2 linked regions of the Homo sapiens genome follow. The protein of the gene in region 2 binds, or shares a complex with, the protein of the main gene of each other region. Each region holds a gene or a part of one and is shown on either strand. Other genes may lie near its edges. The genes, in order: RHOA and RAP1GDS1.

What was found.
Region 1: the proteins of RAP1GDS1 (region 2) and RHOA are in contact, whole or in part, in a crystal structure (PDB 5ZHX), measured with the Homo sapiens proteins. Residues at the interface, in NP_001093897.1 of Homo sapiens: Arg111, Tyr118, His121, Ser171, Glu200, Met201, Val204, Asn208, Glu211, Leu212, Glu213, Ala249, Glu253, Lys290, Thr291, Asp294, Leu295, Val297, Leu298, Leu301, Asp303, Leu334, Leu338, Ala341, Asn342, Ala344, Arg345, Asn346, Asp347, Cys350; in NP_001300870.1 of Homo sapiens: Ala3, Ile4, Arg5, Lys6, Asp13, Lys18, Lys51, Asp65, Tyr66, Asp67, Arg68, Leu69, Arg70, Pro71, Leu72, Ser73, Tyr74, Lys98, Trp99, Pro101, Glu102, His105, Phe106, Leu179, Cys190, Leu191.

Annotation. Positions count from the first base shown.
Region 1 is NC_000003.12:49,358,984-49,369,490, reverse strand, and holds the end of RHOA (transforming protein RhoA isoform 1 precursor), read left to right. Parts: intron 1-942; coding exon 943-1,063; intron 1,064-6,864; coding exon 6,865-6,995; intron 6,996-8,424; coding exon of another isoform or gene 8,425-8,563; intron 8,564-9,108; coding exon 9,109-9,282; 3' UTR 9,283-10,346; downstream 10,347-10,507. UniProt on the Homo sapiens protein: Small GTPase which cycles between an active GTP-bound and an inactive GDP-bound state.
Region 2 is NC_000004.12:98,256,198-98,266,838, reverse strand, and holds the start of RAP1GDS1 (rap1 GTPase-GDP dissociation stimulator 1), read right to left. Parts: upstream 5,456-10,641; 5' UTR 5,274-5,455; coding exon 5,270-5,273; intron 1-5,269. UniProt on the Homo sapiens protein: Acts as a GEF (guanine nucleotide exchange factor) for the Rho family of small GTP-binding proteins (G proteins) that stimulates the dissociation of GDP to enable subsequent binding of GTP.

The sequences.
Region 1 (10,507 bases), on a different chromosome or scaffold from region 2:
AAAGTGCTAGGATTACAGGCATGAGCCACCGCGCCTGGCCACACTCAGCTAATTTTTAAGGTGTTTTTGTAGAGGTGGGTTCTCAGATTTTCAATTTTGAGAAATTTCAACCTAAAATAATTTAAATATACTCTCATTTGAGCTTGATGCTCATAAAAGTGAATACTCGGCCGGGTGTGGTGGCTCATGCCTGTAATCCCAGCACTTTGGGAGGCCGAGGCAGGCGGATCACGAGGTCAGGAGATCAAGACCATCCTGGCTAACATGGTGAAACCCCGTCTCTACTAAAAGTACGAAAAATTAGCCAAGCGTGGTGGCGGGCGCCTGTAGTCCCAGCTGCTCAGGAGGCTGAGGCAGGAGAATGGCATGAACCCGGGGGCAGAGCTTGCAGTGAGCCAAGATCTTGCCACTGAACTCCAGTCTGAGCAACAGAGTAAGACTCCGTCTCAACAAAAAAAAAAAAAAAAAAAAAAAAAAAAAAAAAGGCCAGGCGCGGTGGGTCACGCCTGCAATCCCAACACTTTGGGAGGCCGAGGCGGACGGATCATGAGGTCAGGAGATCCAGACCATCCTGGCTAACACAGTGAAACCCCGTCTCTACTAAAAATACAAAAAATTAGCCGGGTGTGATGGCGGGCACCTGTAGTCCCAGCTACTTGGGAGGCCAAGGCAGGAGAATGGTGTGAACCCGGGAGACGGAGCTTGCAGGGAGCAGAGATCGCGCCACTGCACTCTAGCCTGGGCGACAGAGCAAGACTACATCTCAAAAAAAAAAAAAAAAAAGAAAAAAGAAAAAATGTAAATACTCCTGTGTTTTACTGTTTTAGACCGTCTGCCATTTCAATGGTCTGCCATTTCAATGTACTATGGTAAGTGTCACTTTTTCTAAAAGTGGGTGGGGGGATTAACCTTGCACTCTTGTGGTTGTTTTTCCCATTACAGGTAGAGTTGGCTTTGTGGGACACAGCTGGGCAGGAAGATTATGATCGCCTGAGGCCCCTCTCCTACCCAGATACCGATGTTATACTGATGTGTTTTTCCATCGACAGCCCTGATAGTTTAGGTGAGTGGCCCTGCACCCTGATATTTGTCACTGCCTGTGTAGCTAGTTGGCATCTGGTTTCTGGGCATCAAGTGGCTGAAAAGCAGACATGAACTTCAGAGAAGCAATCATCGTCAGTGGCCGGAGTCCTGGAGTTTGGGATTGTAGAGCGTGGGCCTTGGGTCCCTTTCAGCCTAGGTCTCCCATGGGTACTGTATTTAAAATGTATCCACCTAGGCAGGGCACGGTGCCTGACACCTATAATCCCTGCGCTTTGGGAGGTCCAGACGGGTGGATCACCTGAGGGTCAGGAGTTCAAGACCAGCCTGGCCAACATGGTGAAACCCCGTCTTTACTAAAAGTACAAAAAAATTAGCCAGGCATGGTGGTGCACGCCTGTAGTCCCAGGTACTTGGGAGGCTGAGGCAGGAGAATCGTTTGAACCTGGTAGGTGGAGATTGCAGTGAGCCGAGATTATGGCACTGCATTCCAGACTGAGCAACAGAGCAAGACTCTATCTCAAAAATAATAATTATTATTATTATTACTAAATAATATTAAATGTTATTTAAAAATCTAACTGCCTTGTAAACTAGATGAATTCCAGATACAAAGATGAGTAAACTAAGGCTGGTGCGGCGGCTGACACCTGTAATCCTAGCACTTTGGGAGGCCGAGGCTGGCAGATCACCTGAGGTCAGGAGTTTGAGACCAGCCTAGGCAACATGGTGAACCCCTTGTCTCTACTAAAATACAAAAATTAGCTGGGTGTGGTGGCGTGCACTTGTAATCCCAGCTATTCCAGGGGCTGAGGCAGGAGAATCACTTGAGCCTGGGAAGCAGAAGTTGCAGTGAGCCAAGATCATGCCACTGTACTGCAGACTCCATCTCCCAAAAAAAAAGATGAGCAAACTAGATGAGTTCCAAATGTAAAGCCATCTCTTTTGGGGAAAGACTTTCTTTTTTTTGGTTGCCCTGTCTTAGCCTTTTTCTGAAGTGTCTTAGCTGATAGAAGCTTGAATGTGATCATTTCATTAGCCTAAACACAGCCACATAATTCAGAAGTCAGTAAGTCAGTATTCTTTTTTTTTTTTTTTTTTTTTTTTGAGAGGGAGTCTTGCTCTGTCTCCCAGGCTGGATTGCAGCAGCTTGATCTCAGCTCACTGCAAGCTCTGCCTCCTGGGTTGATGCCATTCTCCTGCCTCAGCCACCCAAGTAGCTGGGACTACAGGTGGCCACCACCACGCCCGGCTAATTTTTTGTATTTTTTAGTAGAGATGGGATTTCACCACGTTAGCCAGGATGATCTTGATCTCCTGACCTCGTGATCCGCCTGCCTCGGCCTCCCAAAGTGCTGGGATTACAGGCGTGAGCCACTGCGCCTGGCCCAGAAGTCAGTATTCTTTAGAAAAAGACTGAAGAATGCTAACCTGACATTCTGTGAAACCAGGCTTGAAAAAACTTGCTTTAGGTTTGTGCTGAAGATGATGAGGTATCTATTAATAAACTTGTGCTGCAGCCCTCCCTGTCATGACAGGGCAGCAGGTGGGTCAAGGATGTTGTCGTCATTACCACAAACAGCCTTTGAGGGTCTGCTTGTGGCCTCGGGTTGCCTGGATAGTTAGTGTTAGAGTGATTGTGTTGTTATGGTTGTCCCTACCTTAATGATGATAACTGGGGTTGCTCCAAGATATTGAGCCACTTGTTTAAGGTCATGCTGGCCCAAGGAGCTGAGCTAAGATTGAGTCCTCTGTGCAGTATGTCCCAGGACAGAGAAAGAGCACGTATTCCATGCCGTTGGTTCACTTAGATCATTTTCAGCAGTTATGATTGATTGATTGATTTAGAGGCGGGGTCTCGCTCTGTTGCCCAGGCTGGAGTTGAGTGGCACAATCTTGGCTCACTGCAACCTCCGCCTTCCAGGTTCAAGCAAATCTCCTGTCTCAGCCTCCCAAGTAGCTTGGACTACAGGCATACGCCCCCACGCCTGGGTGATTTTTGTATTTTTAGTAGAGACCGGGTTTCTCCGTGTTGGCCAGGCTTCTCTCAAACTTCTGACCTCTGGTGATCCACTCACCTTGGCCTCCCAAAGTGCTGGGATTACAGGTGTGAGCCACCACACCCAGCCTAGTTTTGGTTTTCAAACTAATATGACTTCCTTTTGTGAAGCTGCTGGAAGGCCCTGGAGGCTGGGCAGAGCTTTAGGCCACAGAGAAAATTTGAGCTAGTTGACACTCTCCTATCAGATACACACATAAATAACTTCACCTAGATCCTATTGGAATGAGAAGGACTGTGTGCCTTTGCCCTCGTTATCTAGTGTATAATTCTTGAGGGAAAAAACTGCCTCCAGAGCAAAACATTTTGTCTCTTCAGTCTCACTTTTTTCTTTTTGAGACAGGGTCTCGCTTTCTTGCCCAGTCTTGAGTGCAGTTGCAGATTCAGTTTACTGCTGCCTCGACCTCCTGGGCTCAAACAATCCTCCCATCTCAGTCCCCACCCAGTAGTTGGTACTACAGGCACACACTGCTGCGCTTGGTTAATTTTTATATTTTTTAGGCCGGGCATGGTGGCTCACGCCTGTAATCCCAGCACTTCGGGAGGCTGAGGTAGGCGGATCACCTGAGGTCAGGAGTTCGAGACCAGCCTGGCCAACATGGTGAAATCCTGTCGCTACTAAAAATACAAAACTTAGCCAAGTATGGTGGCATGTACCTGTAATCCCAGCTACTCAGGAGGCTGAGGCAGGAGAATTGCTTGAACCTGGGAGGCAGAGGTTGCAGTGAGCCGAGATCGCATCACTGCACTCCAGCCTAGGTGACAGAGTGAGACTCTTGTCTCAAAAAAAAAAAAAAAAAAAGTTTGAAAATTTATTCACCAAAAGTGGCGACAGTCAATTTATTCAAATTCTATGTACCTCAAACTCCAGGAAGGGGGTAGACTATTGGTATAATTTCACATATTCAGGAAATAACTACAGCACCTACTAACAGAACATCTATTCTAGGCCAGGCACTGTGGCTCACACCTGTAATCCCACCACTTTGGGAGGCCAAGGTGGGTGGATCCTGAGGTCAGGAGTTCAAGACCAGCCTGTCCAACATGGTGAATCCCTGTCTCTACTAAAAATACAAAAAAATCATCCGGGCGTGGTGGCGAGTGCCTGTAATCCCAGCTACTCGGGAGGCTGAGGCAGGAGAATTGCTTGAACCCGGGAGGCAGAGGTTGTAGTGAGCTGAGATTGCGCCACTGCGCTCCAGCCTGGGCGACAGAGCAAGAGTCCATCTAAAAAAAAAAAAAAAAAACTTCTGTTCTAGATGAGGGAAGACAGAATAGGCTCCCCTCAATGCCCCCAAAAAAGTAAATCAGAAAATAACAACAGTAAACCCAGTAACAGTAAATATTACAAATAACATTTGTAGAGGTGGGTCATGGTTGTATGCTGTTTTGTTTTATTTATTTTTATTTTTGTTTTTTTGAGACAGACTTTTGCTCTTGTCACGCAGGCTGGAGTGCAATGGTGCGATCTCAGCTCACTGCACTCCGCCTCCCGGGTTCAAGCACTTCTTCTGCCTCAGCCTCCCAAGTAGCTGGGATTACAGGCATGCACCACCATGCCTGACTAATTTTTGTATTATTAGTAGAGACAGGGTTTCAACATGTTGGCCAGACTGGTCTCAAACTCCTGATCCACCTGCCTCGGCCTCCCAAAGTGCTGAGATTACAGGCCTGATGAGCCACTGCACCTGGTCTATTTATTTTTATTTATTTATTTATTTATTTATTTTGAGACGGAGTCTCGCTCTGTCGCCCAGGCTGGAGGGCAGTGGCACGATCTTGGCTCACTGCAACCTCCACCTCCCTGGTTCAAGGAATTTCCCTGCCTCAGCCTCCCTAGTAGCTGGGATTACAGGTGTGCACCACCATGCCCAGTTAATTTTTTTGTTTTGTTTTGTTGTTTTTGAGACGGAGTTTCGCTCTTGTTGCCCAGGCTGGAGTGCAATGGCACGATCTCGGCTCACTGCAACTTCCGCCTCCCGGGTTCAAGCGATTCTCCAGCCTCAGCCTCTCAAGTAGCTGGGATTGCAGGCATGTGCCACCACGCCCAGCTAATTTTGTATTTTTAGTAGAGACGGGGTTTCTCCATGTTGGTTATGCTGGTCTCCCAACTCCCGACCTGAGGTGATCCACCCGCCCCGGCCTTCACAGTGCTGGGATTATAGGCATGAACCACTGCGCCTGGCAATCTTTTTGTATTTTTAATAGAGATGGGGTTTCACCATGTTGGCCAGACTGGTCTCGAACTCCTGACCTAACGCGATCCACCTGCCTCAGCCTCTCAAAGTTTTGGGATTATAGACGTGAGCCACTGCGCCCAGCCTATTTATTTGTTTTTAAGAGATGAAGTCTCACTTTGTCACCCTGGCTGGAGTGCAGTAGTAGCGTGATCATAGCTCACTGCTACCTTGAATCCTGGACTCCAGTGATCCTCCCACCTCAGCCTCTCAAGTAGGTGGGAATGCAGGCACATGTACCACTGTAAACTGCTAAGTTTTTGTATGTTTTTGTGGAGATGGGGTTTTTGACTTTTTTGATACAGAGTCTCACTCTGTTGCCCAGGCTGGAGTGAGTGTAGTATTGCGATCTCGACTCATCACAACCTCCACCTCCTGGGTTCAAGTGTTTCTTCTGCCTCAGCCTCCCAAGTAGCTGGGACTATAGGTGCACACCACTGCGCCCGGCTAATTTTAGTAATTTTAGTAGAGATGAGGTTTCGCCATGTTGGCCAGGCTGGTCTCGAACTCCTGACCTCTGGTGATCCACCCACCTAAGCCTCCCAAAGTGCTGGGATTACAGGCACGAGCCACCACGCTGTCTGGAGATGGGGTTTAGCCATGTTGCATAGGCTGTTCTTGAGCTCCTAGGCCCAAGCTGTCTACTTGCCTTAGCCTCTCAAAAGTGCTGGAATTACAAGTATGAGTCACCACGCCCAGCCTCTTTTGGTTATTTTCAAAAGTCACTTTTTTTTATTTGAGACGGAGTCTTGCTCTGTCGCCCAGGAGTGCAGTGGCGCGATCTCAGCTCATGGCAAGCTCTGCCTCCCGGGTTCACACCATTCTCCTGCCTCAGCCTCCTGAATAGCTGGGACTACAGGTGCCCACCACTACACCCGGCTAATTTTTTTTGTATTTTTAGTAGAGACGGGGTTTCACTGTGTTAGCCAGGATGGTCTCGATCTCCTGACCTCATGATCCGCCCACCTTGGCCTCCCAAAGTGCTGGGATTACAGGCATGAGCCACCGCTCCCGGCCAAAAGTCACTCTTCAGCCATTTGAAATACCAGTAAACCCCATAGGGTAGAAGTTATGCTGAGAGTTGATGAACAAGTTAGAAAAAGAACATGTGGACCCTGGGTCAGCTGCTGCCCTAGAATGGGGACCCCTTCTGTAAGCTATGTCAGAATCATCTACCAGCAGTGACAGATGTCCTGTAAAGTGCCTGCCTTTGTGGGGCAGGAAGTGCCCCCCGTGAAACTACCTTGTGTTGTGGATCTTTTGCTCCTCCAGAGCCCTTACTCGGGCCCCACCTACAGAGATGCTCAGCACCACTCTTGGCTGGACTGAGAAAAAGCTGTTGGTTCTCTGTTTAAAGGAAAGGGATTATATTTCCTTTTTATGGTTTTGAAACTAGTGAGTTTCATTAAATGTCTAGCATTTTTCTGAAGCCACAAAGAAAGTGTCTCTGCAATTTCACTGAGGTTCTTGGAAAGTCTTCAAGATAGAATTGTATGTATCCCCAAATTCTCTACATTTTTCTTTCAGAAAACATCCCAGAAAAGTGGACCCCAGAAGTCAAGCATTTCTGTCCCAACGTGCCCATCATCCTGGTTGGGAATAAGAAGGATCTTCGGAATGATGAGCACACAAGGCGGGAGCTAGCCAAGATGAAGCAGGCATGATCTGGGGCAGGACTGTCTTGTAGTATTCTTGAACTAGGGCCCCAAGTTTGGAGGTTTGGGGAGCCCAGCAGGAACCTTCACAGGCCAGGTTGTTTTAGAGGCTCAGAAGCCCCTCTGTGGCCCTCTGACCCTCATTAATTGGGATCTTCACAGAAGATCCCTAAGATAGTTCACCAGTCCTGTGAGATGGAATGTTTTTTTATGAGGTAGTGCTATGCCCATAAGGACTGCTGGCCTGAGAATGAACCATTTCATTAGTAGCTAGTAATCAGTGGCTCTAGATGTAGGAACTTTCTTTTTTTTGATATGGAGTCTCATTCTGTCACCCAGGCTGGAGTGCAGTGGCGCAATCTCAGCTCACTGCAACCTCCGCCTCCGGGGTTCAAGCGATTCTTCTGCCTCAGACTCCCGAGTAGCTGGGACTACAGGCACCCTCCACCATGACCGGCTAATTTTTTTTTTTTTTAATAGATGGGGTTTCACCCTGTTGGCCAGGCTGGTCTTGAACTCCTTACCTCAAGTGATCTGCCCACTTTTGCCTCCCAAAGTGCAGGGATTACAGGTGTGAGCCACTGTGCCTGGCCTCTGTTAGACTCTTTATTTTTATTTTTTGAGACACAGTTTTGCTTTTGTCACCCAGGCTGGAATGCAGTGATGCTATCTCGGCTGCAACCTCAGCCTCCAAGGTTTAAGTGATTCTCCTGCCTCAGCCTCCCAAGTTGCTGGGATTACAGGCATGTGCCACCACGCCTGGCTAATTTTTGTATTTTTAGTAGAGACGGGTTTTCTCCATGTTGGTCAGGCTGGTCTCAAACTCCTGACCTTAGGTGATCTGCCCGCCTTGGCCTCCCAAAGTGCTGGGATTACAGGTGTGAGCCACCACGCCCGGGCCTGTTAGACTCTTGATTGCCTTCCCCAGCTATTACTTTGGTACATGTGAGGCCAAAGATAAATTAGTGGCAACTGAAAGATAAGGAAATCTTGAAGGCTGGGAGTCCAGATAGAAAGCCCTAATGCCTTCCCTCTCCTCCACTCCCAATGCCTTTTTAAAAGTGATGATGGATGTGGCATCTTGGCCTCTCAGAAACCAGCTGGCCTAATGGCAGGGCTTCCTCACTGGAGGAGAAGCATTGAGATCTTCAACCTAAGTTCTCTTACTCAGGTTTCTCTGTCTGAATGTCAAGGGTAGGCTTTATTTCCTTCAGGGCATTTAGTCCTGGATTGGTAGCTTGAGTAATTTTGCTCTTGATTGACTCCTTAACCTTCCAGGGCTCCTCTGACCTCTTCCCTCTACTTCCCAGTGAATACCATGTTTATTAGAGATTTTATGTTTGGTAGGGGGTAGTTACCATATGTCAGTTTAAAAATTTCATAAGTTTAGCAGTTTGTTGTTTTTTTTTTTTGTTTTGTTTTTTTTGAGAAGGAGCCTCACTGTGTCGCCAGGCTGGAGTGCTGTGGCACGATCTTGGCTCAACTGCAACCTCCGCCTCCCAGATTTAAGCGATTCCCCTGCCTCAGCCTCCTGAGTAGCTGGGGTTACAGGCGCCCACTACCACACCCAGGTGATTTTTTGTATTTTAGTAAAGAGGGGTTTCACCATGTTGGCCAGGATGGTCTTGATCTCCTAAACTCGTGATCCGCCCAGCTCAGCCTCCCAAAGTGCTGGGATTACAGGTGTGAGCCACCACACCCAGCCAAGTTTAACAGCTTTTGAAAGTCTTTTTTTTTTTTAGGCTGGGTACAGTGGCTCATGCCTGTATCCCAGCACTTTGGGAGGCCGAGGTGGGCAGATCACTTGGTCAGGAGTTCGAGACCAGCCTGGCCAAAATGGTGAAACCCCATCTCTACTAAAAAATTACTTGGGCGTGGTGGTGGGCACCTGTAGTCCCAGCTACTCGGGAGGCTGAGGCGGGAGAATCCCTTGAACCCAGGAGGTGGAGGTTGCAGTCAGCTGAGATCATGCCATTGCCCTCCAGCCTGGGCGACCGACGAGCAAAACTGTCTCAAAAAAAGAAAAAAAAATCTTTTAGATGAATTTGAATACTTTTTACTTACTATATGTATGCCACACTATTAGCTAAAAGGACTATTTTTTTTTCTTTGCTAGGAGCCGGTGAAACCTGAAGAAGGCAGAGATATGGCAAACAGGATTGGCGCTTTTGGGTACATGGAGTGTTCAGCAAAGACCAAAGATGGAGTGAGAGAGGTTTTTGAAATGGCTACGAGAGCTGCTCTGCAAGCTAGACGTGGGAAGAAAAAATCTGGGTGCCTTGTCTTGTGAAACCTTGCTGCAAGCACAGCCCTTATGCGGTTAATTTTGAAGTGCTGTTTATTAATCTTAGTGTATGATTACTGGCCTTTTTCATTTATCTATAATTTACCTAAGATTACAAATCAGAAGTCATCTTGCTACCAGTATTTAGAAGCCAACTATGATTATTAACGATGTCCAACCCGTCTGGCCCACCAGGGTCCTTTTGACACTGCTCTAACAGCCCTCCTCTGCACTCCCACCTGACACACCAGGCGCTAATTCAAGGAATTTCTTAACTTCTTGCTTCTTTCTAGAAAGAGAAACAGTTGGTAACTTTTGTGAATTAGGCTGTAACTACTTTATAACTAACATGTCCTGCCTATTATCTGTCAGCTGCAAGGTACTCTGGTGAGTCACCACTTCAGGGCTTTACTCCGTAACAGATTTTGTTGGCATAGCTCTGGGGTGGGCAGTTTTTTGAAAATGGGCTCAACCAGAAAAGCCCAAGTTCATGCAGCTGTGGCAGAGTTACAGTTCTGTGGTTTCATGTTAGTTACCTTATAGTTACTGTGTAATTAGTGCCACTTAATGTATGTTACCAAAAATAAATATATCTACCCCAGACTAGATGTAGTATTTTTTGTATAATTGGATTTCCTAATACTGTCATCCTCAAAGAAAGTGTATTGGTTTTTTAAAAAAGAAAGTGTATTTGGAAATAAAGTCAGATGGAAAATTCATTTTTTAAATTCCCGTTTTGTCACTTTTTCTGATAAAAGATGGCCATATTACCCCTTTTCGGCCCCATGTATCTCAGTACCCCATGGAGCTGGGCTAAGTAAATAGGAATTGGTTTCACGCCTGAGGCAATTAGACACTTTGGAAGATGGCATAACCTGTCTCACCTGGACTTAAGCATCTGGCTCTAATTCACAGTGCTCTTTTCTCCTCACTGTATCCAGGTTCCCTCCCAGAGGAGCCACCAGTTCTCATGGGTGGCACTCAGTCTCTCTTCTCTCCAGCTGACTAAACTTTTTTTCTGTACCAGTTAATTTTTCCAACTACTAATAGAATAAAGGCAGTTTTCTAAACTTCCTGTATCCTGTTGTTTGTGTTGCTCTCTCCAGGGCTGGGGGTAGGAGGATGCAAGGACTTCCTGGCCTAGCTCACCCTGGAGAGGTTTGTTGAGTGCAAAGGACTAGCTTGTGCCCCACCTCCCACCCACCCAGCAGCTAATCTGGTCCCTCCCAAC
Region 2 (10,641 bases):
CCACTATGAAAGCAAAATCATTTTGGTTCTTAAAAAGAGTTAAGGCTATTATAATTTTTCAAATAGTAGTAGTACAGACTTCAGAATATGACTACCAAGGATAGTGAATTCAACCTTTCTCCCATATGAAAAAAGACATATACAAAACAGATATAATGCCAACATAAGAAAAATTTTTAAATTTACCAAGCTAGCATCTATGCTTTTTTGAAATCATAAATTTTAGTAATTACCAGCTTTCAAAAATATTTTATCACCCTGCCTAGACTTGCAAAGATCAGGCAAAATTAGTATTTATTATTTAGCTATGAAAACCATTCCTGGACTTGGAAATACAGGCAAAATAAAATGACTATAAGTTTGATACCTATCTACAGAGAAAACTACAACTCCAGGAATTAAAAATATAATTAGAAGCATACCTATAATCTAAAGAAGTCTCAAATTCACAAAGTCTAAGAGTAAAAGTGATAAAACCATTCATCAGTAAAGAGTATTGTTTAGGCAAAATGCCATGCAAAATTATAAAATCATTCTAGACTCACTCTGCATGACAGACATTATAAAAATAAAAATTGTACTATACTAAGTCACAAAGACATTAAAAATGAAATGTCAGAGAAATGTGAGGCACTATGGTGAAATTAAAAATTATCCTTAGACATGAAAACAGCACATGTCCTTCCATGTAAAATGTAACATTAAAATAATTTTTTTAATTTGTAAATTAAAATACATTTAAAATTTTAAAATATTTTCTAAAATGTAATATCTGTCATGCAGAGTGAGTTAAAAATATTTTTAAAAATCTATGTTTTCTCACAGATCTTTAAACAAGGTGAGAAATACAGCATGACTATACCTAGTGAACTGTTTCCACTTATTATTCACTTAGCCTTTACAACTGACCTCCATATCTACTAAACCTCTTAAAGTGGCTTTTTAGAAAAATATACTGGGTAATATCCTAACCAAAGCACTTAGAGCCTGTTCTCAGTCCCTATCACCCTCCTGACTGTTCTGAAAAAACAGACCTTATTAACTATTCACTCTTTCTTAAAACCAACCATATACCAATTCTAGTCTTTCACTCTGACTTCTGTGTTTTTCAGTGTGAAATCATACCATTCCTTTTTCCCTAACTACGGAAAACTTAAGGAACCCCATTCCTCAAGATTCTTACCATGAACAATTTTCCTCTTTTTCTTTGTTGACTCTTGTCCTCTGATCTAACTTCAAATATCACCTCAGGATATTTGTGGATAACTTCCAGATCTCTAATTCAAATTGTACTCTCGAAAGTTAAAATAAATGTTTGTCAACTATTTTTTATCTAGTTTCAGTCAGTCAACACAATTTTTCTATGTAGCTACTATGTGCCAGACACTAGTGTTAGAAATGTATTCAAATCCTAATATGACAACGTCCTTGTTATCAAGGAGCAGAGACTAAAGGACAGACCAAAAAGTCTAATGCAATAGGTCCAAAATTGAGTATCTAAGTTTCCTCTTCCTGTTAACTGAATATGTATCAGGAGATTCTCGTATCCTCATTATCACCCAGGCTAAAACCTGTGACTCTCAATTCCATACTCAATGGGTTGCCAAGTAAATCCTATTCTTTATTTGCAATATTCTATTCCCGTTGCCATAACCTGGTTCAAGCCATTAAACATTTTCGTCCAAACTCCAACAACAATCTTCTGAAGTGTTCTGTAGTTTCTCATCTAATCGATCCTGCACTCAACTGACAAATTTTCCTATACCACAGATGTGATCCATCACTTAACTACATAAAAATGTTTAGTGGTCTCTCAATAGGTAAGTCAGATTAAAATTCTTCAGCTTGGCATTTTAGATCCTACATTATCTGGTCATTAGCTATTACTGTACTACTTTTTCATGTCTGTTACCCACTATTTCCTTACCTTTTGCTCTAGCCAAACAATGCTGTTTAATCATATCCTGGAAATTCATAAAATGTTTCCTATCTATCTTCATTTATGTCATTTCTCTTCCAACCCCAGACCAACTCCATTCTGATTAACAGTCTCATTTCTACCTTTAAGAAGTTTAACCCACCTTTGGTTCAAATAACACCATTTCTCTAAAACGTTCTCTCCATTCTCTGAATCTATAATATATGTAAAGGTCTTTTATATAACTTATACTTTTACTTCTATTATAATTTGTGTATGTGTCATATTGTTCCTGCTAAGATTATAAATGTGAAACATGAATATCTTTTTATCTTTGTCCTCCCAGTACACTGTAGTACAGTACACTGCACAGTTGATATCCAACAAACACTAAATGTATGTTGAATCTGAAATATGACATATACATAAAATAGTAGCTATGGCCATAAAGTTATATAGGACTTTTCTTTCACTCTCTTGTGTAGGAAATTATTGCCATGAGAATATATATATATATTTTTTTTGAGACAGAGTTTCCCTCTTGTTGCCCAGGCTGGAGTGCAATGGCATGATCTCGGCTCACTGCAAACTCCGCCTCCCGGGTTCAAGTGATTCTCCTGCCTCAGCCTCCCAAACAGCTGGGATTACAGGCGCCCGCCACCACACCCGGCTAATTGTTTTTTTGTATTTTTAGTAGAGACAGGGTTTTACCATGTTAGTCAGGCTGGTCTCCAACTCCTGACCTCAGGTGATCCGCCCGCCTCGGCCTCCCAAAGTGCGCGCCCGGCTGAGACTATCTTTAAAAATCAACCTTATTTATTTCTTGAGACAAATTAAAAAGCACTTCTCCCTCCCCTCATCATTAACCAGTATACCTTCTACCTTCTTATGTGTACATGAATTGTTATACTAACTTCCTTGGCCCAGATATAAAACTGTTCCCCAAGGTTTCAATTTTAAATTATCATATGTACCTACTGATCATACATGAAACTGCCTTACCATTGAAGAGAGTTTAGAAGGAAACAGATTGCCTGAGGTTGACTCAAAACCAACCTACAGTGTACTGGGAGGCATGGTACAATTATACCTTTCTGTTTCTGCTTATCCCCCAACTAGATAATATGTACCAACCCAAATGTTTGTTCAGATGAAGACTATATCTTCAGGTTCAAAAGTTGAAAATAATAGGTGGCTTTAAGTTCAACAATTTGCCAAAGATTTACTGAATTTCTATTTGAAAAGCACTGTGGGGAACACAAAAAATAATAAGACACTTTTCATCTTCTGGGACTCATGATTAAATGCACAGCACACACATAAACAACTTTATTATATGGTAGATTACGTAAGTGCTAAAAAGCTTCTAACAAGGTACAAACAGTGCTTATGAAGAGACAGATTAACCAAAGAGTATCAGAGATGGCTTCAAAATGAGAGATAGGTTTCTATTTGGCCCTTTTTAAAAATCAAGCAATAGCACTCAAGATTTTGAAGATTATTTTTAAGTAGATAATTTCTTTTAGGTATTTTTATTCACCAGTGTTGTAACGGAATTGGATTTTTTCCACTGAAAAAGTACGGATTTAACATGTAAGCTAAAATGTTAAATGGATTGTTTAAGGCTCACCTGGAAACATGGGAAAATATATTTTGCAAGCCAAACTTGAACTTACAGTCCAATATCAGATAGGGTTATTGGACATACTGTATATTTCCTTTGAACATACACACACTTATCTGTGTATGTATGTTCAAAGGAATTTTATTTCAAAGTGTATTTTATCTGTGTATGTTCAAAGGGAACACACATAAACGTGTGTATGTTCGACGGAAATATACAGCTTGTCCAATAATCTGATATAATACCTATTTAAAAATCTACTTTAAGAGAAAGGCAGACACGCATAAATGGGCCACCCAATTTTTACAGAAATTTGTTCAGCATATCGAGTACTCACGTTAAAAAGAAAAAACAACTGAAAATAAAATTCAGAGCCCTAGACCTTTTTTGATTCATACCACCTCCTCCGTCAACCCTGGCCTCTTCCAGATATATGGCCAAAGGTCGGGATCAAAGCCTGAAGCATTTGCTGTTCCAGAAAACTCTATGGACACCATTCCCAGGTTTAGATACTTCTTGAAGATTCTGAGTTGCACCACCTAACTCTGAACGTGTTGAGCACTGTATTAACAGATGAAAGGACCACATTCATCTCAAGCTTTAAATAACTCGCACAGAAGGGGTGGGAAAAGTCCCAGCTGACAGATGCCAAGGGAGCAAATTTTAAAAAGAGGAAATTATGACAGACAGGAGTGGAAGCAAACTGGGGAACTTAGTACAAGTCGCTACTATTAAAAGAAACTTTGAGCTCTTAATTACATGACAGCATTCATCAGACGTTTCTGTGATTACTGAATGTAACAGTTAAGCAATAGATGATGTAAAAAAATTAGGTCAAATGTATATATCGTTTTATAAAACATATTTGCTCTTAAATCTCTCATCCAAACCAATCTCTTCAGATTAACTATAAATACAAAGGAACTAAAATCAGATTATGCAGATTAGACAGGAGGAAGCTGGGAAAGAATAACTACCATGTAAGTTCGGTAACAACGTTACAGGGCGCAGTTTCCTGCTACAGAAGACGGACGAAGGAATCCAGAAAATAGGCTGGGCACGGGAATATTGCACACTGTAGTCACCCAGCACTAATTCAACAGCTAGCGGCTCTATCCTGCCTCACGTTCCTCGTGGCCTCTGACAAGTCATCCTTTCAACCTATGAGGCTGTCCGCTCTCCCCCTTGGAAAATAATTTCCGTGCAGGTTGTAAGATCTCCCTCACAAACTACTTGCTTCCACTTCCCCGCCCGGGATGAGGAGTCTCCACGACGGGGAAAGGTCGCACTGACAGAGAAGGAAGTTACACGAAGTGGTAGTGGTCGGACCCGAGCCTCGAGCTCAGTACACGCGGGGGAAAAGGAAGCGGGCGGCCTCTGGAGAAACGGGGATGGAGCTGCAGATGCGAGCCCGCGAGGCAGGCTCCGTGGTGCCCGGGCACCGGCAGGAAGAATGGAGGAGGGGAGGCGAGGCTGCGAGGTGCCGGGGAGCCGGGCGGCGGTCCGGCCCGCGGCCGACCCCACCCCAGCCCGCGCTCGGGACCCTCCCAGCCCCGGCACCCGGCGTGCGTTCCGCGTGCGCCGACTCTCCCCGGAGGAACAGCCACCGTCTCACACCCGGGGACTGGAGAAATCCGGCAACTTTGCGCGAGAAATGCTTCCCACCCTGCAGCACGCCGAGAAAGAAAAAAATGTCAGGCGATGACGGCGGAGGAAGGATGACTTACCCATGTTGCTCCCCGAGGGTGAGGAACCGGCGGGGCGAGGCGAAGGTCTGTGGTGCGGGCGGCGCGGCTCTGTGTCCTCCCTCTACCTCCGTCTCTCCCGCAGCCAGGGAGGGACCCGCGGGGGGCGGCCGCCGGGGAGGAGCAGCTGGTGCTGCTGCAGGCGGCGCGGCCGCGGCGGGGACGAGCGGCGGGGGGCGGGGCGGGGCGGGGCGGGGCGGGACTGGCGGGCGCAGCCTGCGGCGGGCGCGGCTCCGAGCGGGCGGGCGGCGGAGGCGCGGGAGCCGGCCTGAAGAGCTCCGGCCCCGACTCGCAGCCCACGAGCGCCCCGCCCTCCCCACCGAGCATGCTCAGTGCCTTTTCCACCCCTCCCTCTGTGGCGAGCGAGGCTAAGCGTGCGGGTGGGCGTGTGTTTGCAGACCGGCTGCAGCCGCGGCAGAGGATCTTCATGGCGGCCGCCTGAGAGGCGGAGGGCGGGCCCGGAGAAAACAGGGAATGGGGATATTGAGCCCGATCTGCTAGCAGAGGACTCACCGCTGCCTTGCTTTCCCACCCTGACCCACCAACCCCTCACCCGGAACCCGGGCTTGCCTTCTTTACGGGACGACCGGGCCGCACAGGCCGGAATTAACCGGAGAAGAGGCTGGGCCGCCGCAGAGCCGGGAGGGGTGGTGGGAAGCCAGAGCTGACGAAGTTGGAAAGGACGTGTAGGCGACTAGGCCTGCGCCTCTTGGGGACACCTGAGGACGCCCGCTGGGCAGCTGGCTGAGGAGGGGCCGCCGGGAGGGCGCTCGATAGCAGGCGTGTCATTGGGACACTTAAGGCTGCTCTAGCTGTGGCCAGCTTAGAAACAAAGGTCCCGGCAGCGAGGAGAGCGCCCGCCCCAGGATTTCCTCGAAGAGTGTGTCGTTCTCCCTCCCGGAGGAGCGCGGCCTTCCGTTCCCCGGAGGGCTCTGGAAAGGCCCTTTAACCGGGGTGCCGTCGGGCTCCATCCTGCTGTGAAAGCGGGAGGAACTACGTTCCCCAGGCTTGAAAATAAGCGTCCTGCTGGGTTGGCTGCGGCACTGCCAAAGCTAACCCGGCGGAGGTCCTTTGATCCCGGGGCCACCGCCCGCTCCCACCACCACCTCGGCCTCGGGGAGAACCTGAGCAGGGCTCTCCCACTGAGGGCGTCCTCCCGACTGGGCATGCACGTGAGGCCGGGGCTGGCTTCGGTCCTCTTCCCTGGGGTAGGAGGCTGGAGGAAACCGATTTCTCTGCACCCTAATCTTGCCCTGGCTCCTCCTGAGTGGGGTGAGGAATCTGGTCGCTCTCCAAGGCTACAGCGACCGGAGTCCTTCAGGGGACACTGTGCAGTCAGCAGTACAACCTGTTGGAGAAAGATGGCTGAATCGAGGTGTCTTTCCCCTGTCAACTTTCACTCGGTCAATCCAATGTTGAGAAAGGGCTTTTTTTGTTTGTTTGTTAATTAGTCGCCTATTCTCACAGTCATCAGTTTCTGCTTGGTGACTAGTATTTCGAGCACACAAATCAGAAGCGACCCTGTAATTTGTTAAGCAAAGAGCAGATTTTATGTGATTTTTCTACAGCAAGAAACGATAATTAAAAAGGTTTGGTAAAACAGGAAAATACAATTTAACTGCTGAAGTCAAATATATGGGACTTTTCTGATGCATGAGACTATCAGGCACCTCACTCTTAGGATGTTCTTCTTGTTTGCCTCTTAAAATAATCGCACTACATTAGTTCCCTAGGGCTGCCGTAACATACCACAAATTGGGTGACTTAAAACAACAAATTATTATCTCACAATTCTGGAGGCCAGAAGTTTGAAATCAAGGTGTAGGCAGGGCTGTACTCCCTCTGAGGGCACTGGGGAGGGATCTCGTCCATGCCTCTCCTAGCTTCTGGTAGTTTCTTGGCATATGGTAGCGTAACTCCAATCTGAACATGGCTGTTCTCCCAGTGTGCTTGTGTGTTCAAATTTCCCTTTTTAATAAGAACAGCAGTCATAACGGATTAGGGGCGAACCATCCTCCAGTATGACCTCATGGACGTTAATTATATCTGCAATGACCCTATTTCCAAATCAGGTCACATTCTAAGGGACTAAGGGTTAGGACTTCTACATATGAATAGGGCCAGCCTGGCCAACATGACGAAACCCCATCTCTAACTAAAAATACAAAAAATTAGCCAGGGCCAGGCACAGTGGCTCACGCCTGTAATCCTAACACTTTGGGAGGCTCAGGAGGGCAGATCACTTAAGTCAGGAGCTGGAGATCAGCCTGGCCAACATGGCAAAACCCTATTTCTACTAAAAAATAAATAAAATAAATAAATTAGCTGGGCATGGTGGCACGTGTCTGTAATCCCAGCTACTTGGGAGGCTGAGGCAGGAGAATCGCTTGAACCCGGGAGGCGGAGGTTGCAGTGAGCTGAGATTGCACCACTGCACTCCAGCCTGGGCCACAGAGCAAGACCCTGTCTCAAAAAAAATAAAAATAAAAAAAAAGAATCCGGGAGGGGTACACAATTCAACCCATAATACACCAATGCAGACCCCACCCTCAGGGCCCCTCACTGCCCCCACATCGGCCATGTTACACATTAATTTTATTACTCCTCCAGAAGACCAGCCTGGGCCTTTGCATTGCTGCTCATCATTTTTTGTTCATCTCTCCTTAACACTCATTAATCTCTTCCAGATTGTCAAGTTAACTTGCTTTATTTTTCCTACTTCCTTATCTAATTACATATTATAATAATTTCATGGAGTATCTTCTATCATTTATTTGGATGTAAGCGTTGAAATTAGCAAAAGCAGCTGAAGTGGCTTTCTCATTTCCCATCTGACACTAGTTAAAGTGCCTTTTTTGTTCTACTTCAATCTACAAGCCATCTCCTTAGCCTTCCTGCCAATTAAAACCAAAGGATTGTTCAGGCTTAGTGCATATACTGAGTCCTAATGCACCGGTGTTGTAACCATAGTGAGAACCAATACTGATTGTTATATGCAGAAGTGAATTACTTCCAGACTGGTATATTGCCTACTCCTTGCACACACAATGCCACCTCCCTTCCCCTCTCCTTTCTTGTTCTATTATAAGAATATAATGTTTCTGTCTCATATCTTTACTTTCTTCCTTTATGTCTTTATTCAAAAGTTACCTGCATGATGTCTTCCCTAGTTATCTTATCTAAAATTTCAACACTCCTTCCCATTTCATATCCCCACTTCTATACTTTATTTTTTTTCCTTAGCAGTTATCAATAAGATAATATATATTTTGCTTTTGGACTGTCTCCCACATTTAAATGTAAGTTCTCCTAGGGAAATAATTTTTGTCTGCTGTATTTACCATTATAACCCCCGTGCCTAAATAGTGCTAGCACATAGCAAGTGCTTAATAAAAATTTGCTAGGTATGGTGGCTCACACCTATAATTCCAGCACTTAGGGAGGCCGAGGAGGGAGGATCACTTGAGGTCAGGATTCTGAGAGCAGCCAGTACAAGATAGCAACACCTTATATCTACATCTCTTGACATCCCTGATGTCAAGAGACTCTTCCAAAATCGATCTACTAATACCCATACTGTATGTTAGGCAATGGTCAGGATTTTATCAGGCCTGCTACAAAACAAAGGAAGTTCTGGCCCAGTGCAAAGGTTTTCAACTTCAATCTAGGAAATGTCATATTTATAAAGTATCACGGATTTATTTGAATAACAATTTCTGTTGAAAATTGGTTTATGATTACTAAATAGCTGTTATGGGGGAGTATCAAGGAAAATGTCTTTTAGAAAAGATCAGAAGCAGTACATTTTGGCAAGACTTATAACTTACCTCATTGATGCATGTAAGCTTAAAGAGGTTAGAAGGTGATTTAAATTCTTTAGAGGAAATCTATTGGGAGGGGCAACACAACAAGAAGTGGAAAGAGAGGAGAGAATGTTCTTTAAAAGTATAATAGGGAACTGATTGCCTCCTGTTCACCATGATGTTCTGAATATCATTTAAGGGAATTTCACTGGAGTAGTTAATTGAACTTTGCGGTGATAGAAAATGATTTGGCAGTGAACAGCCTTCTGCCTAAACTGTTTATTTTTCAGAGACTTCATTGGTGAGATCAAGTTAGTCCAGGTTGAACAACTGAAATGTCTTAACCTCAATGTAACCTCTTTCTCCCCCGCTCTCCATTTATTTAATATTTTAGCCATTTTCTAAATGTTGTAAAATCTAAATTATTTTCATAGGCTGTCACCTCAAACTAATGTCTACATGTTTCAAGCAACAACAGACCTAGATTACATACAGTTTTTAGATGGGATATACCACTTTAAAATCAGTCATGTAGTTATTGAACATTTCTTCTGAGCTCAGCACTGTGCTAGATGCTATAAAAGAACAGCTATAAGGGCCAGGCGCGGTGGCTCATGCCTGTAATCCCAGCACTTTGGGAGGCCGAAGCGGGTGGATTACGAGGTCAGGAGATCGAGACCATCCTGGCTAACATGGTGAAACCCCGTCTCTACTAAAAATACAAAAATAAACCAGGCATGGTGGCGGGCACCTGTAGTCCCAGCTACTCGGGAGGCTGAGGCAGGAGAATGGCGTGAACCCGGGAGGCAGAGCTTGCAGTGAGCCGAGATCGTGCCAGTGCATTCCAGCCTGGGCGACAGAGCAAGACTTCGTCTCAAAAAAAAAAAAAAAAAAAAAAAGAAATAGCTATAAGTACATATCATGCAAAACAAGAGAGTAAGAACAATCTCTCTTAAAAGTCTCTTCCTACTAGTTAAAGATAGCTGTATAAGGAGAACATACCTGAAGAATGGATAGAATTTTTCCGAGAAAGGATGGGAAGAAAAGAATTTACTCCAAGACAGGGAAACAGCATGTGGTAAGACACCTATAGGCCATATTCATAAGACCATTAAAAAGGGTACATATTGGCCGGGTGCGGTTGCTCACACCTGTAATCCCAGCACTTTGGGAGGCCGAGGCAGGCGGATCACTTGAAGTCAGGAGTTCAAGACCAGCCTGGCCAACATAGCGAAACCTCTTCTCTACTAAAAATACAAAAATTAGCTGGGCGTGGTGGCGCGTGCCTGTGGTCCCAGCTACTTGGGAGACTGAGGCAGGAGAATCACTTTAACCCAGGAGGTGGAGGTTGCGGTGAGCCAAGATCACACCACTGCACTCCAGCCTGGGTGAGGGAGTGAGACTCTGTCTCAAAAAAAAAAAAACAAAAAAAAACCAAAAAACAAAAAAACGATGCAGGGATACTTATTGTGGCATCTTGAGAAATAAGATTAAAAATTTAGTATGAAGAACAGATTGTGAGGGGCTGAAAAAGCCAGCCAGAGGAATTTA